Linked DNA regions of Homo sapiens. The protein of the gene in region 1 interacts with the protein of each later gene in a biochemical or structural test. Each region holds a gene or a part of one and is shown in the gene's direction. Other genes may lie near its edges.

What was found. Proteins that work in one complex are often made in the same cells at the same time.
Region 2: the proteins of RBBP7 (region 1) and BCL11B form a complex in vitro, tested with the Homo sapiens proteins (one study listed by BioGRID).
Region 3: the proteins of RBBP7 (region 1) and BCL11A form a complex in vitro, tested with the Homo sapiens proteins (one study listed by BioGRID).
Region 4: the proteins of RBBP7 (region 1) and ERCC6 form a complex in vitro, tested with the Homo sapiens proteins (one large-scale study listed by BioGRID).

What each region holds. Positions count from the first base shown.
Region 1 is NC_000023.11:16,846,363-16,850,577, reverse strand, and holds part of RBBP7 (histone-binding protein RBBP7), read left to right. Parts: intron 1-1,276; coding exon 1,277-1,334; intron 1,335-4,215. UniProt on the Homo sapiens protein: Core histone-binding subunit that may target chromatin remodeling factors, histone acetyltransferases and histone deacetylases to their histone substrates in a manner that is regulated by nucleosomal DNA.
Region 2 is NC_000014.9:99,227,198-99,231,054, reverse strand, and holds part of BCL11B (B-cell lymphoma/leukemia 11B), read left to right. Parts: intron 1-3,857. UniProt on the Homo sapiens protein: Key regulator of both differentiation and survival of T-lymphocytes during thymocyte development in mammals.
Region 3 is NC_000002.12:60,470,155-60,474,011, reverse strand, and holds part of BCL11A (BCL11 transcription factor A), read left to right. Parts: intron 1-3,857. UniProt on the Homo sapiens protein: Transcription factor. Associated with the BAF SWI/SNF chromatin remodeling complex. Binds to the 5'-TGACCA-3' sequence motif in regulatory regions of target genes, including a distal promoter of the HBG1 hemoglobin subunit gamma-1 gene.
Region 4 is NC_000010.11:49,456,546-49,459,478, reverse strand, and holds part of ERCC6 (DNA excision repair protein ERCC-6), read left to right. Parts: intron 1-244; coding exon 245-664; 3' UTR 665-2,933. UniProt on the Homo sapiens protein: Involved in repair of DNA damage following UV irradiation, acting either in the absence of ERCC6 or synergistically with ERCC6. Involved in the regulation of gene expression.

The sequences.
Region 1 (4,215 bases):
AAAACCTTTAAAGCAGACAGTTGGGGGCATTGTATTTGATTTAAAAACAATTTTAGTAGTAAAATAAAACCTAAATCAAAACTATAAAGAGGTTGTATGAAGCGTACAGCAAGGTTTGGAAGTCTGATGCCCTGGCAACTGAATTGCCCCTGAAGGTGCCAATAATTTGTGAGCATTGTGTGTAATTTCTTCTTAGAATTATTTCTTAGCTTGTTTAATATTAAAATTACATTAGATAGGGGGCCAGGCATGGCGGCTCATGTCTATAATCCCAGTACTTTGTGAGGCTGAAGCAGGAGGATCGCTTGAACCCAGGAGTTCGAGACCAACCTGGGCAACATAGACCCTGTCTCTACAAAAAATTGTAAAATTACATTAGATAAAATTTGGGATTAAAATGGTGAGTTTTAGCAACTATACTGACAGGTGGAAGATAAGTATTGTCTAGCAATCCCACAGGTTTGAGATTGTTTGGTTAGTTTTGTGGGAAGGAAAAAAATGTCTCACTTGGAGGGCTGGGTTTTGTTTTTTAGTAGTTGTTACTACTAAAGTCTTTGGGCTAGGTATAAGGACAGGGCTGATATTGATACATAAAGAGTGATTTCACTGTTGAGCACTGGCAAATTCTACAAATTGAAGTTTTTAAGAGAAAAACCATAAAAACATTTCCTTGGCTTACACATTTCTCAAAGTTTTATTGCCATATCTTTAGACAGATCTATAGTACTGATTTGTAATTATATTTTACTCCTGGGATGCAACAGGCTTTGAGTGAAGTATAGGGATTGCACATCAGTTTATGTGTAGATTTTTTTAACTATACATTTCACCTTTTAATTCTAAGGCAATAAACAGTTAATGAAGGGATTTTGAGTTAATGTTTATTATTGACAATAATTCCTCATTCTGCAACTTCAATTATGAACAACTCTAACTTATTTCCAGAAAGTAAACATCCCGTCCTTACACCAAATATAAACAGTAGCCAGATGTGGTGAGGCTGAGGCGAGAGGATCGCTTTTGAGCCCAGGAGTTCAAGGCTGTAGTGCACAGTGATCGTGCCTGTGAATGAATAGCTACTGACTGCAGCCTGGGAAACATAGCGAGGCCATGTCTCTAAGGAAAAAAAAAACCTAATTGATTGTAGTATAGAAATAAGTTGTTTTTGTGAGTGTGTTTATGTTTTAAGATTACTTTCTGGGCTGATACTGGTTTAGCAGATGTTCGTGCTACAAGAATTTCACTGATGAAAGCGTTATATTCTTTATTCTTACAGTAAAATTGGGGAAGAACAATCAGCAGAAGATGCAGAAGATGGGCCTCCAGAACTCCTGGTACGCATTGGCTTATAGAAGATGAAATGTCATATGCAGATTGGATTGTCATTGATCTCTTTATTTCGAGAATGGGTCAGAACTTCGAATTCTAGCTCTTGCAGATGGTTTCAAAATGGAGGCCCTGAAGGTTATTGCAACTGGGCTTTGACATTTATCAAAAATAGTAAATGGAGCCCAGTAGGTTTTTATGAATGTTTCACTGAGAATGGTTTGAGGTCCTGGAAAATAGTATATAGTAATTTCTCACTGATTTCAACTCTGGTATTTGTGATGGTTTGGGGATGGGGAGTGAGTATAATTGCTATTCAGTTGGCAGTACTTAACATTTCCTAACAGTATAGAAAAAATTTTAAATGCTTTTTAAGTTTCCTGCCCAGAAAAGGAGTGCTTTCTCAATCTTGATGTTAGCAGAGCCCACTATCTCCCTCCCATGCCTGATTGAAGCATCACGCATCTCCTTGGCCCTTTGAAAGCTTATGTGGTGGTATCTGCCCATCCTCATTCTTCCCGTCTGAGTCCTTCAGTGCTCACTTCGTCATTTTTCTATGAAGCATTGCCGGATTTAGCAATGGTTCCCTGTCCTTGCTCTGAATCCAACATTTGTCTCCTCCCATTATTTGGCCGATAGTCACTCATCACTCTGTCATTTACGATTTTAGTTCTAATGCCAGTACTCATTTTTGGCACACTTGTACTTTGTCCATGAGTTTTATTTATTCATTTTTTCTGTGAACCTATGGAGTATATTGAATGTCCACAAGTTTTCAAAGGTAAAGAAGGTCCTTGAGAGCAAGCCCTGCACACAGAAGATGTTCACTAAGCCCACCTTGTAAGAATGCTCCAGACCCTTTTATTTTGATGACGGCTTTACTGAGATATAATTTACATACCACACAGTTCACTTCTTTAAAGTGTACAGTTCAGTGGGGAGGGAGTGTTCTTGGGTTTTGGGGGTTTTTTTTCTTTTTTTGTTCTTGAAGTCAGTGGTTTTTAGTATATTCATAGACTTGTAAAACTATCACCACAAATCAATTCTAGAACATTATTCATCCCCTCCAAAAGAAACTATAGCTATCACCTCCCAATTCTCTTCTTCCTCCAGCCCTTGGCAACTACTGTGCTACTTTCTGGCACTATAAGATTGGGCTATTCTAGATATTTCATATAAATATGACTTTTGTCTTTTGGGACTGATTCTTTCACATAGTACAATGTTTTCAAGGTCTCCAGCTATTTTTTTTAGGGAGAAAGGAAAGCGTATTACTTTGTATATTATGCCTCTGCAACAATTCCAAGGTCCTTGAGAAAATACACTAGGATTTTGCTTTTTACAAGAGAGCTTGAAATCAAGGGACATTTGAGAGTAGTAAACTGGGCCTGGGCATGGTGGCTCCTGCCTGGAATCCCAGCACTTTGGGAGGCCAAGGCAGGTGGATCACGTGAGCCCACAAGTTCAAGACCAGGCTGGGAAACATGGCAAAACCCTGTCCTGTCTCTACCAAAAAAAAAAAAAAATACATAAATTAGCCAGGTGTGGTGGCGCGTGCCTGTAGTCCCAGCTACTTGGGAGACTGAGGTAGGAGAATCACCTGAGCCCGGGAAGTTGAGGCTGCAGTGAGCCATGATCACACCACTGCACTCCAGCCTGGGCAATGGGAGTGAGACCCTGTCCCAAAAACAAAGTAGTAAACTATTCCACCAGTATGCTTTGATAACTCCTGTATGTTTTCTAAGCCCCAGTGATCTTAAAATATATTCACCTGTGTACCCCTTAAGAGTACTCTCTCTGTCGCCCAGGCTGGAGTGCAGTGGTGCAATCTCAGCTCACTGCAACCTCTGCCTCCCGGGTTCAAGTGATTCTCCTGCCTCAGCCTCCCGAGTAGCTGGGACTACAGGTGCGCAACACCATGTCCAGCTAATTTTTGTATTTTTAGTAGAGACAGGGTTTCACCATGTTGGCCAGGATGGTCTTGATCTCTTGACCTCGTGATCCGCCCGCCTCAGCCTCCCAAAGTGGTGGGATTACAGGCGTGAGCCACCACACCCGGCCAGTATATTCACTTGTGTACCCCTTAAGAGTACTTTAAAAAGCTATTTACCTCTTTTTTTTTTAAGTCAAGGTCTGGTTCTGTCACCCAGGCTGGAGTGCAGTGGCGCAGTCTTAGTTCACTGCAACCTCCACCTCCCAGGTTCAAGCTGTCTTCCCATCTCAGCCTCCTGAGTAGCTGGGACTATGGGCACACCCCACCACGCCCGGCTAATTTTCGTATTTTTTGTAGAGACGGGGTTTTGTCATGTTGCCCAGGCTGGTCTTGAACTCCTGAGCTCGAGCCATCCGCCTGCTTTGGCCTCCCAAAGTGCTGGGATTACAGGCGTGAGTTTTACCCAGCCCCACCTCATATTTTTAACCCGATAAGATTATTCGGTAAAATAGATACATTGCATAATACCTAGTTGGCAGGCAGAGACCTCATTGTCAAACTAGAGTCAAATCAGACTTTGTCAGAAAGTGTGATGTCCCAGTTCCAAACAGTGTATTTAGTACTGTCCTTGTGAAGAAGTGTTTCGTTTAAATCTTAATTCTAAGATAAAAAAATAAGGCATAGTGCATTCCGACGAGGTTGTCTCTTGCGGGGAACAACTGCTCTCTTCAGAATTGTTTAGCAAAGCTCTCACCTTAGGCATAGCTTATGAGGGACTATCTGGAGCTATGCTTTTGGAGCCAGGGATTTTCTTTCACCCTGGTGCTGTCTGTGTACGTTGGAAAGATGGGCAAGAAGTATGCCTCTCTCAGTAAAGTGGAGAGGGGAAGAACCAGAAGACTCCTCAGGCCCCTTGTATAATAGAAGAGTATGTTACATGGCATATAACGGATTGA
Region 2 (3,857 bases), on another chromosome or scaffold:
TTGGATAACACTTAACATCTGAGGTTTTCTTCGGCCCTTGCCACTGCCACCCCCTCCCCCACCCCAGACAATCCCCTGCCCCGCCAAGACCAGGCTAGGGGAAGATTCCTTGGTTGACTGTGTACATTGCTGGAGCCGTCCAAAATGCTGAGTTTCTCTTTGGGAGAATGTGTTGCCCATTAGCTTTGAAAAAGAAAAAAAGTGGCTCAAAAGGAGCCTCTTAAAAAGCTGTGGCCACGAGAGGGAGTGAAACACTGTGAGGTGTGTGAGGGGTGGGGGCGGGGGCTGAGTACCTGCTGTGCGTCCGGCTCTGGGCCAGACCCAGACACAGCTGTTTGTGCCGACTCATCCTGCTCTCCCGGGCGGGCGGTGTGGCTGCCCATTCTACAGATGGGCAGATGGGCCGGTGTGGTGACACAAACTGGCCTCTACCTGCCCTGCTTCTCCCCAAGTGGAACCCAAGATCTTATTCTGCCTAGGGTCTCTGGGAATCCTTGGGGTCCTTGGGAATTCAAGGGCAAAGGGCCCTCTCACAAGTCTGTCCCCCCGGCATCTCGGCAGGGCCTGGCGTGAAAGCACTGTGGCCACGCAAACCAGGATGCTGACACAGACACATGTGGTGAGCAGCCGTGGCCTGGTTTCTGTGGCAGGGGCAGGAAAGGAGAAGGGGGGTGCAGAGCTGGGGCAGATTTGATTGGTCCCTGCTTTGTCACCAGGCATGTTGCAGGCTTTCTCTCGACTTGAATTGTGAAAGGAAAACTATTTTTATTGGGCAGGTTGTGTTTTTAATTGAAGCTGTCCCCACAGGCGGTCCCTGATGGAGCCACAGCTCTGCAAAAGCCATGGCCACAGCTCTGTAAAAGGCCACAGGCAGCCCCTGCTCCAGGGTCCAGAGCTTCCTGGGCTCCAGAGCTCCCTAGTAGGGTGGCCTGGAGCTTTAGTGTACCCTCCCTGCTGTGACAGGTGGTGACATCATAGGATCTGGCTTCCAAAAGGGAGTTCTGGTTTCTTACTGGACTTGTGCCTTAAAGGCACAAAGCAAAACCCAAAATCTCCTGGGAAGGAGTCGGAACCACTTGCAAAGACGCCGGCTCCCTTTTCTGGGCTGTGCTGGTCCCCAGGTGCTCAGGCCTCCTGTCCTGGTTCAGTAGATCTGTTCTGTGAGTCTGTGGAAGGCCCTGCTTGCTGAGCAGGGGGTGCCTGCTCTGTCTGGGTGGTTGCCTTGCTCTCGTGGCTTCCTGTCATTAGCGCTGCAGCCTCGGCAACCACTGGGGGGGCCATGCTATCGAAGATCAGCCTGAGTGTTTATTACTGGACGCGGTCAAGTTCCGTGGCACAGAAATCTGATCTCACCAGAGGCTCACCCAGGGCTTTGCTTAACCCTCTGTTGGCCCTACTTAGAAGTTGCTGAAGTAGATGAGACTCAGCTAGAGGACTGAGCCGCTCCCTCATGTGGCCAGGCCTGCTTAGCATCTTTGTATGGTGCTGACCAGGAGCTGTTACCATCCCCATTTTGCAGATGGAGAAGCAAGGGCTTGGGGAGGGAGAGTGGCTAGCCAGGGTGGCAGAACTGGGATTTGTCCTTGGTTGCCTCCTGAAAGGCCACCCCTCTTCCTGTGGAGCCACGCTGCCTCTGCCGACATCCACGGGAGGTCGAATGAGCTTTCCACTGCCTTGGCTCTGGGGGGCTCTGCCATCAGCAAGTCCTCATACATGCCACTAGGATCCTTATGAGGACTGTGTATGGAGGGCCTGCTATGTGCTGCATTGTGCTGGGCATGTGTGCCTTCTTGAATTTAACCCTCACAGCAACCCTAATACTTTATTCTCCTCACTTTGCAGATGAGAAAATGATGTTCAGAGATGTTGAGTTCTCACAGCTCACGTCTATCCGTCCGTCCATCCATCCATCCATCCATCCATCCATCCATCCATTCATCCCTGTATCCATCCATCCATCCATCTATCCATCCATCCATCCATCCATCCATCCATCCATCCATCCATCCATGCATCCATCCATCCATCCATCCATCCATCCATCCATCCATTCATCCATGTAGCCATCCATCCATCCATGCATCCATCCATGCATCCATCCATCCACCCATCCGTTCATCCATCCATCCATCCATCCATTTATTCATTCTTTAGCTTGAAGCCATTTGGAAGGCACCTAGCTTGTAGCACTGTGCACACACAGGAAGAGTCGGCAGGCAGGTCCCTGCCCTCGTGCAGCTTGCAGTCTGGTGGTGGGGAGGACAGGGAGTGGGGACCTGCAGAAGGGGAAGGAGGAGCAGGGAGGGAGGGAGTGGTGGAGGTGGGATTTGATCCCAGGCTCTCCATCCAGCACCTGCCACATCTTTGGCTTTGGCTCTTCTTCTGGCATTAAAGGCCTTTTTAGATTTTAGGCCTTGAGAGCTGCCAGGACTCAGAGCCTGTGAGCAACCAGTGCTTGATTGCAGTGCTCTGGGAGGGACGTGAGGAAGGGCAGTGTCCTGTTCCTGGGGCTGGGACTGCAGGAGGCTGAGCCCCTAGGACTGCTCCAGGAGACCCTTCTAAGGGGCCTGCTCTTACCTCCTGCCCTCTGCCACCATGTCTGGTACAGTTCTCTTTTTTCATTCGGTCCCAGTTCATTGGCCCTCACCAGCTTGCACCACCATGTTTCCCGATCAATTTGAATACCTGAAACTATCCTATTCTGGTGTTTTTTGTCCCTTTGTGATTTGTGTCCCTGGCACTGGGCTGTTTGCTTAAGTGTTTTTAGTGCCTGTTTAATTAGTAGTTGGAATGGAGTCATTAAGTTCCCAGTAACCCGTTAGGAAGAAGCAGGCCTTTGTAAAGATGGAATGGGCCTGCTGTCCTTACCTGGTTTTGTCCCTTTTCGGATCAGGATGCATTGAACCCATCTCTTCAAGTTAACATGGAGAACCCCAGTGTAAACGTGTTTCACACAGGTTAATTGCGTGCCTGTTACCGCATCTGCAGTTATTTATAGAAGGATGTGATTTTACGGGGGGAGAAAACCACACAGGTATGTGTGTTTGTGCACACCCTGGGCTGGCAGCATCCCAGGGGGCCCTGCCTCCCGGGACCCCAACCCTAGACCTCTTTCCAATGGTCGCAGTGGGGAGAAGGGACTCGGGGGTCCTGACTCTTTTTGACTCTGCTGAAGGAAGGTGGGGCTTTGAGTCTAGGCGTTCCTGGGAACTGAAATTTCTTCCCTGAGAAATTTCACATAGAGGATTTGGCACAGTGGCTGTGGGGTCAAGAGCCTCAGACTGTGTTCCTGGTCTGTGCTTCAGCTGGCCAGGGGCCCTAAAGAAGTCATTGCCTCAGTTTCCCCTTCTGTAAAAATACACGTATGTATGTATATGTGTATGTATGCAACATTTGAAAACGAGGCTCGTGTTATTTTCTGAGACAGGTCAGTGTGGAGCTGCTGTGGGTGGAGTGAGCATGGGGCTAGCTAGGTTTCCAGGGCAGGGCGTGGGACATTCAGAGAATGGTTTGGACACTCCTGGGCTTTGTGCCCCGCATGCCAGAATCCTTCCCTGTTCTGAGGCTTCCATGATTGGAAAGCGGTGGTCAAGTGTATGAGACTGCTTGGGGGTGAAGGCTGTTCTGCCCCATGTAGTCATTTCCCCTCTCCATCCCTCAGTTTCCCCATCTATAAAATGGAGCTAAGGATAGGACAGGCTCTGAAGGGTCGTTCTGGGGATCGTGTGAGATCATACGGGCCAGGTGCTGAGAACAACACCATGTGCTGAGTGAGCCCTGTCGAAGTTAGAGTCCATGCACGAGCGGAATGGGATTCACGACATTGAGACTCTGTCAGGTCTCACTTCAAGCTGGAT
Region 3 (3,857 bases), on another chromosome or scaffold:
AGTTTCAGGGAAGAAATTCTATATTGTAGTGTCTATAATTATTGCTTTCTTTTGTTTTTGCAGAATACACTTTTTAAAGAACATCAGGATTTGGTAAAACAGCCAGTAAAAAAGCAATGAAGGAAAAAAAATGCACATGTAAATGCTCATTTCTAGAACAAAAGAGAGTGCGATTTTGACAATATCAGAAGGTTAATTAAGAAGTCTGTGAGTGATGATAAAGCTGGCACATTTTCATTACAGATTGACACAACTCAAGTCACAGGCATAGCTAATGTTTGCTCTATAATACTCTGATAAGTCAGAGAATCTAAGTGAGAAGAACTGGTATCTATGGTAAACATAGGGTCAAGAGCTAGATGCGGCTGAATAGAAAGGACATTTACTTTGCAGTTAGGTAAAGAAGCCTCTAGCTCAGACTAGCTGCACTGTTGTTATTTGTGTGGCTTGAACCTAGTAATCGGATTCAGAACTGGAATGGGTTCCTTCAGGGTACTTTACAAACGTTCAGGATGCATTTTAAGTGTAGTCTAGAAGGTGGTACATGGAAGAGCTGAGGGACTTGAGGATTATGGACTGCGAAAGGACTGTAGGTAGTCCTGTATTTTGGCCTGTCACCAATATAGAGACCCCTCCTCATCATAGTGTCATCCATTCTCTTTTTGAAGACCCAGGGTGAAAGAAAGGGGGTCACAGTGTCACGAGATAGCCCATTCCACGTGGGACAGCTCTACTGCTTTTGTGCCTGTCTCACTGAAAAAAAAAAAAAAACAGGGAAATTATCTAAAAACATATGTTTAGGAAATATACACACATTCACACACGTACACAGACACATATGCACACACTCACATATACACACACATGAACACGCTAACACACATGTGCATGCACATGCTAACACATGCACAAGCATACACACACATGCACACAGTCACAATATACACACATGCACATGCTCACAAACACATATGCATGCACACGCTAACACACATATGTACACATAAATGCTTGCAAACACACACACACGTACATTTTAGTGAATAGCACACATCTATGTACTCCTGTGGAGAGTCCTGTGGTTTTAATACCTGTTAAAGTTGGGCTCCCAAAGCAGTCATTAAACGTGTTGGAATGATGCTTTTTGCTTAGCTGTTTTGGCACATTTGGAAATCTGCAGTATTACCTGTTGATTAGTAGACAGTAATGTGGCTGTATTACACACCCAGTGATTAGTTTCAGAAACAAATAGCATGTTAATAGTCAAGGAATCTTTGAGATGTTCTTGAGGAAACCAAAAAACTTGATTTAATGACTTAAATTCCAGGAACATCCCACTGGGCTTAGAGCTCTTTGTCAAAAGTTGGTACCCAATATATGTAGAAATGTAAAGTGACCAAATGTATAACATTAAATCAAAGCCATTCCCAGTTTGCTGCATATTTTTTAATGAAACCTGAAAAATAAGAGTCACTATTTTTAAATTCAGCCATAAGGAAACTTTGCAACCTAATAATGTGTAAGGCATTTCTGAGGCCCCAAGTGGAAATACTGGGTCTAGAGAGACCTTTATGAAATAGAACAGGTTGAAACACCTTCCACCAGAAAAGTGTAAGACATTTGAAAAAAGATTGAGTCAGAAAAGGGAAATGTGTCCCATTTGAGAGACCAGAAAGGGAAACAAGAGTCCAGTTCCTGCTGTGTCCGTGCAGTTGCCACAGCTGCGTTCGCTGACATGTCGGCTTTAATGGAAGCAGTGAGGACACAATCTGTCTGGCACAAGCTGGTTTGGGTGTTGTCTCATGCTAAGAAGGCCCTGGACCTGATGGAGAGCCTGGACCTGTTCCCTGTCCTTATCAATGACAGACGGAGGGTGGAACCTGAATTTCCTAATGGAGGGATCCTTAGGGATTCCCTAAGCTTAATTTGTTTTTGACTGTTCCAGTCCTAAAGGAGGTGGGTCCTGGACAGGAGGGAAAACAGCCTCATGGCCCATGGGTCTCTGCCCAGGGAATTTCAAAGCTTCCAGCGTTCATACTTCCCTTACCCTAAGACAGCAGTGCTGATTCAGCTTGAGTGTGCATGAGAATCACCTGGAGAATTTATTCAACATAGAAGGCTGCTTCCCCACCCTCAATTTCTGATTCAGTAAGTCTGAGGTGGTGCCCAAGAATTTGCATTTTGAACAAACTCCCAGGTGATGCTGATCGGGGGTGGGCCTGGGTCTGCGCTGTGAGAATCACTTGCCTAAGAGCACTAACAAAGAAAAAAAGAGGACATAACTAGATCACCCACTTCCTAGCCAGCAACCAGAGCCCATCTCTGGCTGGGGAGAATGAAAGCGAAGGTGGGAAAAGAAGAGGCCCTCAACCAGGGGCAGCTCCTTTTCCCCACCTTGGCCTGGGAAGGCAGAGCTGCTCCTCGAGTTTGACGCTCAGAAGCATTAATTGTGATACTTTACTTTGCCTAAGCCGTGATGAAATAATTGAAGGCATCATAGCAAGAAGTTAAGCCCTAGGGAGGCTATTAACAATTTAGCATTTCCAGTTCATGTGGGAATGTCGATTTTACTTACCAAAGAGAATATTATGGATGTGTTTAGTGGAAGAAGCAGCAGAATCAGCTGGGGTCCCCAGTTGGCTTTGCTTTGACCCTCTTCCTGAAGGAAGATAAATGCAAGGGTGAGTCTCACAAAGACAGTGTGCTTTTTTTCTAAAGTAAATAGCTTCTTAGGCTGATAGAAATGTTTTTAGCTGTCTAATTCTGCAGGGGAAGCAGAGGTAGAGGGTGAACACAGCAAAGGTGAGGCCAGGAGGCCCAGGCAGCAGAGCAGGCCTTGTTTTCCAATTGTGAGACCAAGTCAGTTCATTGGCACCTTTCGAAAGCCCCATGTAGCGCTGCTGGGCTGGACCCTCCCCCAAGACGGTTAAGTACTGCTTAATGGATCAGTAGAAACAGGACCTTCTTGTTGGGCAGTGAAGACCACGGCAGGAGCAGCAGGGGGGAAGAGACAAATTCCCAGGAAAGACCACTGGATCAGGAGTCAGGAGATTAATTCTAATCTTCACATTGTGGTTAATCATCAGTGTAGCCATGGGCAAGTCACTTAATTTCTCATGGCCTCAGTTTCCCCATCTGTAAAATGAAGGGACAGACTTGATGATAGCTAGGGTTTTTTACAACTTAGAAAACAAAAACAAAAACAAAAACAAAAACAAACTATGCTGCCAGATAGTCAGATGAGACCTCACTTTGCCACACGGCCAGACACTGTAGAGATCTGGTCCTGCCGTCAGCTTGTTTAGGGCTAATGGGTTTGTAGACAAGTTTGCCAACAAGAGATTCATGCGAGGGGCTAGGCATGGATTAGGTTAGCAGTTCTCCCATTTCTTGCTGGAGGCCTGCTGAAGCACTTCAGGGTCTCTTCCCAGAGTAAGTGGCAGAGAATTTGAAATTTGATACTCCCCATACAAGGATCCAAGTACCTGTTGCGTTTATGCTGGGATCACAGAGATACCTGGGTTGCCTGTGTTTCCTAAGAAAAGGATGTCTGTTTTGGCAGCAAACTTAGTGAACGGCTGAGGCAAAAACAAGTGCAAAGATGGATTCTCAGATTTCTCATTGAAAAATACCATGACAAAATCTGTAGTAATTTTACGCCACACTCTCAATTCACTTGACGTAAACAGTCAAATGTAGACATACTTGTTTGTTAAGTCCGGTCTTCCTGCTTGTGTTGGTTCACTTTGTGGTGTTTATTTTGTTTTGGGTCAGAGAGGATGAAATGTCTCTGTAGATGTTCTCAGGCTAGGTGGTGCTTCCACCAGGGCTTCCCTCTGCAGGCCTGGTAACAGCAG
Region 4 (2,933 bases), on another chromosome or scaffold:
TAAGGGAATGGCTTGGTTGCCCCCTCTTTATTTTTTTTTAGGAAACGGTCTCTTAACAGTGGGAGGATTTAGATACCAGACCCTCCTCCTTTCCCTTTTCATTAGGTGGAGTCTCAGTCTCACCCTGTCAACCTCACCACCCTGGCACATGTGTTGTCTTGTGACCCTTCACAGCCTTTGGGGAAGGAAGTGGGGGCATAAACTAGAAATTAAATATATCAGTATAGTGGTCTTCTTTTTATAGGATGGCATCATGAAAAAGGAGGGAAAAGATAATGTCCCTGAGCATTTTAGTGGAAGAGCAGAAGATGCAGACTCTTCATCCGGGCCCCTCGCTTCCTCCTCACTCTTGGCTAAAATGAGAGCTAGAAACCACCTGATTCTGCCAGAGCGTTTAGAAAGTGAAAGCGGGCACCTGCAGGAAGCTTCTGCCCTGCTGCCCACCACAGAACACGATGACCTTCTGGTGGAGATGAGAAACTTCATCGCTTTCCAGGCCCACACTGATGGCCAGGCCAGCACCAGGGAGATACTGCAGGAGTTTGAATCCAAGTTATCTGCATCACAGTCTTGTGTCTTCCGAGAACTATTGAGAAATCTGTGCACTTTCCATAGAACTTCTGGTGGTGAAGGAATTTGGAAACTCAAGCCAGAATACTGCTAAACAACATTGCTTCCTAAACTTTCAAGTCCCTTTTTCTAACGGGCATTTCTGATTATTAATTTATTATTAATAATCATGTTTGTCAATGGAAGTTGGCTGCACTTGATGTTTGTTTGCATGATGTCTACCTCAGAATTAAAACTTTAAGGAAGAAGAAACTCTTCTCTGAAAGTTAAAAGTTTTAATAATGCTAGCTAAAGGAGAAAATACTTGGATTGATTTTTTTTTTTTTGGCAATCTAATTATATTGTAAATCAGGTACCTAACAGTTACTCCTTGGAGCACATTTGTTCCTTTACCCAAAAGATGCTGTCAGGGAGCACAGTTAGAAGTTTGCAGAACAGAAATCTCAATATTTTTTTTTATTGGTGCTAAAAACAGGTCTTACATTCAGTCAGACCTGTTCAATAAGTTCATCAATATCTGATAACAGCATTATTTTGATGCTTAAACTTTAAACATTTATATTTACCATTTGCCACCCACAAAGGTCAGGTTTGTTATTTGTTGTTTGATAATTATATTAATTTTCTTGGAAAGATCCTCTTTTCAAGGTACTGGTAAATTGGTGAGTATTTTTATTAGTAAAGCATGAAATAGTATGGTAATAAATGATAAGACATGTATTTGTGGAAAGCTGTAGGGTATTCAGTTTACCCTGGCTTTCCTTTAAGCAGAGGGCATCTTTTTCTCTCCTACAGTCACAAAATGTGTTATCATTAAAAAAAATCAAATTAAAGCCAAAAGTAGGTACATAAAAACCACACACATGCATGCACACAAACATCACTGCAGCCCACAGCAGACCCAGCCGTTGTTACCATGAAGTGACACCACTCCAGGCCTCTCTTGTCTGCAGGCTGGCAGGCTGTCTTCTCTCCAGTTGCCTTCGTCTTGCGCCTGCCTTTGCATTCCTTGCGACGGGCTTTCTTGTTTCTGCGGTTTGGATTCCAGCCAAGGCTGTTTGTATCTCACTACTGTTTATGTGTTTGTGGTTCTGTGATGGTGTTGCTTTGATCCTCAGTTTATTTTCTTACCCATGTTTTTCTTGTTTCCTTCTCAGGATGATTTTATCATCTCATCTTTGAAGTGTTGTTTTCCGAAATTCATCGTATTCCTGAAATTTCTTCTTAGCTGTCTTAGTGCAGTTTGTTTCTTGGATTTGTATTCTCTGGCATGCTCTTTTCCTCTCTCTCATTTTTCTGTAGTATGCCTGCCCTCCTACCCTGCTATTTCTTTACATCTCTCTCATGCTTAACATGGATAGCTGTGTCCAGATCTTCTGTCTGCTCATCCATGTGACTCAGAGAGGAGGGTTCTGGGCAGGGGGGCCTTGCCGGACTGCATGAGAGGACATGAGTTTTGCTTTCTCTGCTCTAATATTTTGCTTAAGCCAAGAATCCTTTTCTTAGAGATGTTCTATATGATTCCTGTCAGGATTTTCTAGTTTTTTTTGGATTATAGCTTGTTCATTTCTTTTGTTTTTAGTTTGGTTTATATATAATGAGGGAAGAAGATGATTACATTATTTTTGTCACTTTGCCATCATTGTTTAGAAGTCATAGAAAGAATTTTTAAATAGGCCAATAAGTCTTAAACTTGAGTACTTGGCTTAGAAGAAAGTCAAAACTCCTTCCTTTTTGACTAAGTGGTTTGTTTCTGGGGAGCTCTTAATTTCTATTTTTATAATCATTAGCCTATAAGGAAATTGTGTCTTCCTTGTTCTCAGGGTGATCTGCTGACCTTGTTCACTCATGAAGCATTTGGGTATCATACTTATAGTGTCTGAAACATAAACTGTATTGAGCTAGACAAGGTATAGCCTCCTCTTCAAGTAGCAAATACTATCAAAAGCTATAATGCAGTAGGAGCAAGGTGGTCCTTGTTCCAGTTTTTGTCTCAGTTCTGCTGCTGATGTACCATGATCTTGGGAAGGTGGTGTCTCAGTGTGGAGATCTGACACATTGTTACCGTGCCTCCTGGCTGGAGGGACTTGGAGAACAATGCAGTTAAGTAGAATGGTTTTAACAATACAGAGAAATTTATTCATTTAGATAAAAATCTGATTTTTAGAACTTTAAAAGCTTTGTACAGTGTAAATAGATTTAATGTATTTAACATGCTTTATCAGCACAAATAAAGGATTTTAAAATTTTGTCAAAAAATTAAATGTTAATACTATCACCATTAAAAATGTTCAAGCAATAGTCTGCCTCCCCACCCCCACACCATCTTGCACCTGTTCCACAGCTAAGTACAGCCCTAGGTT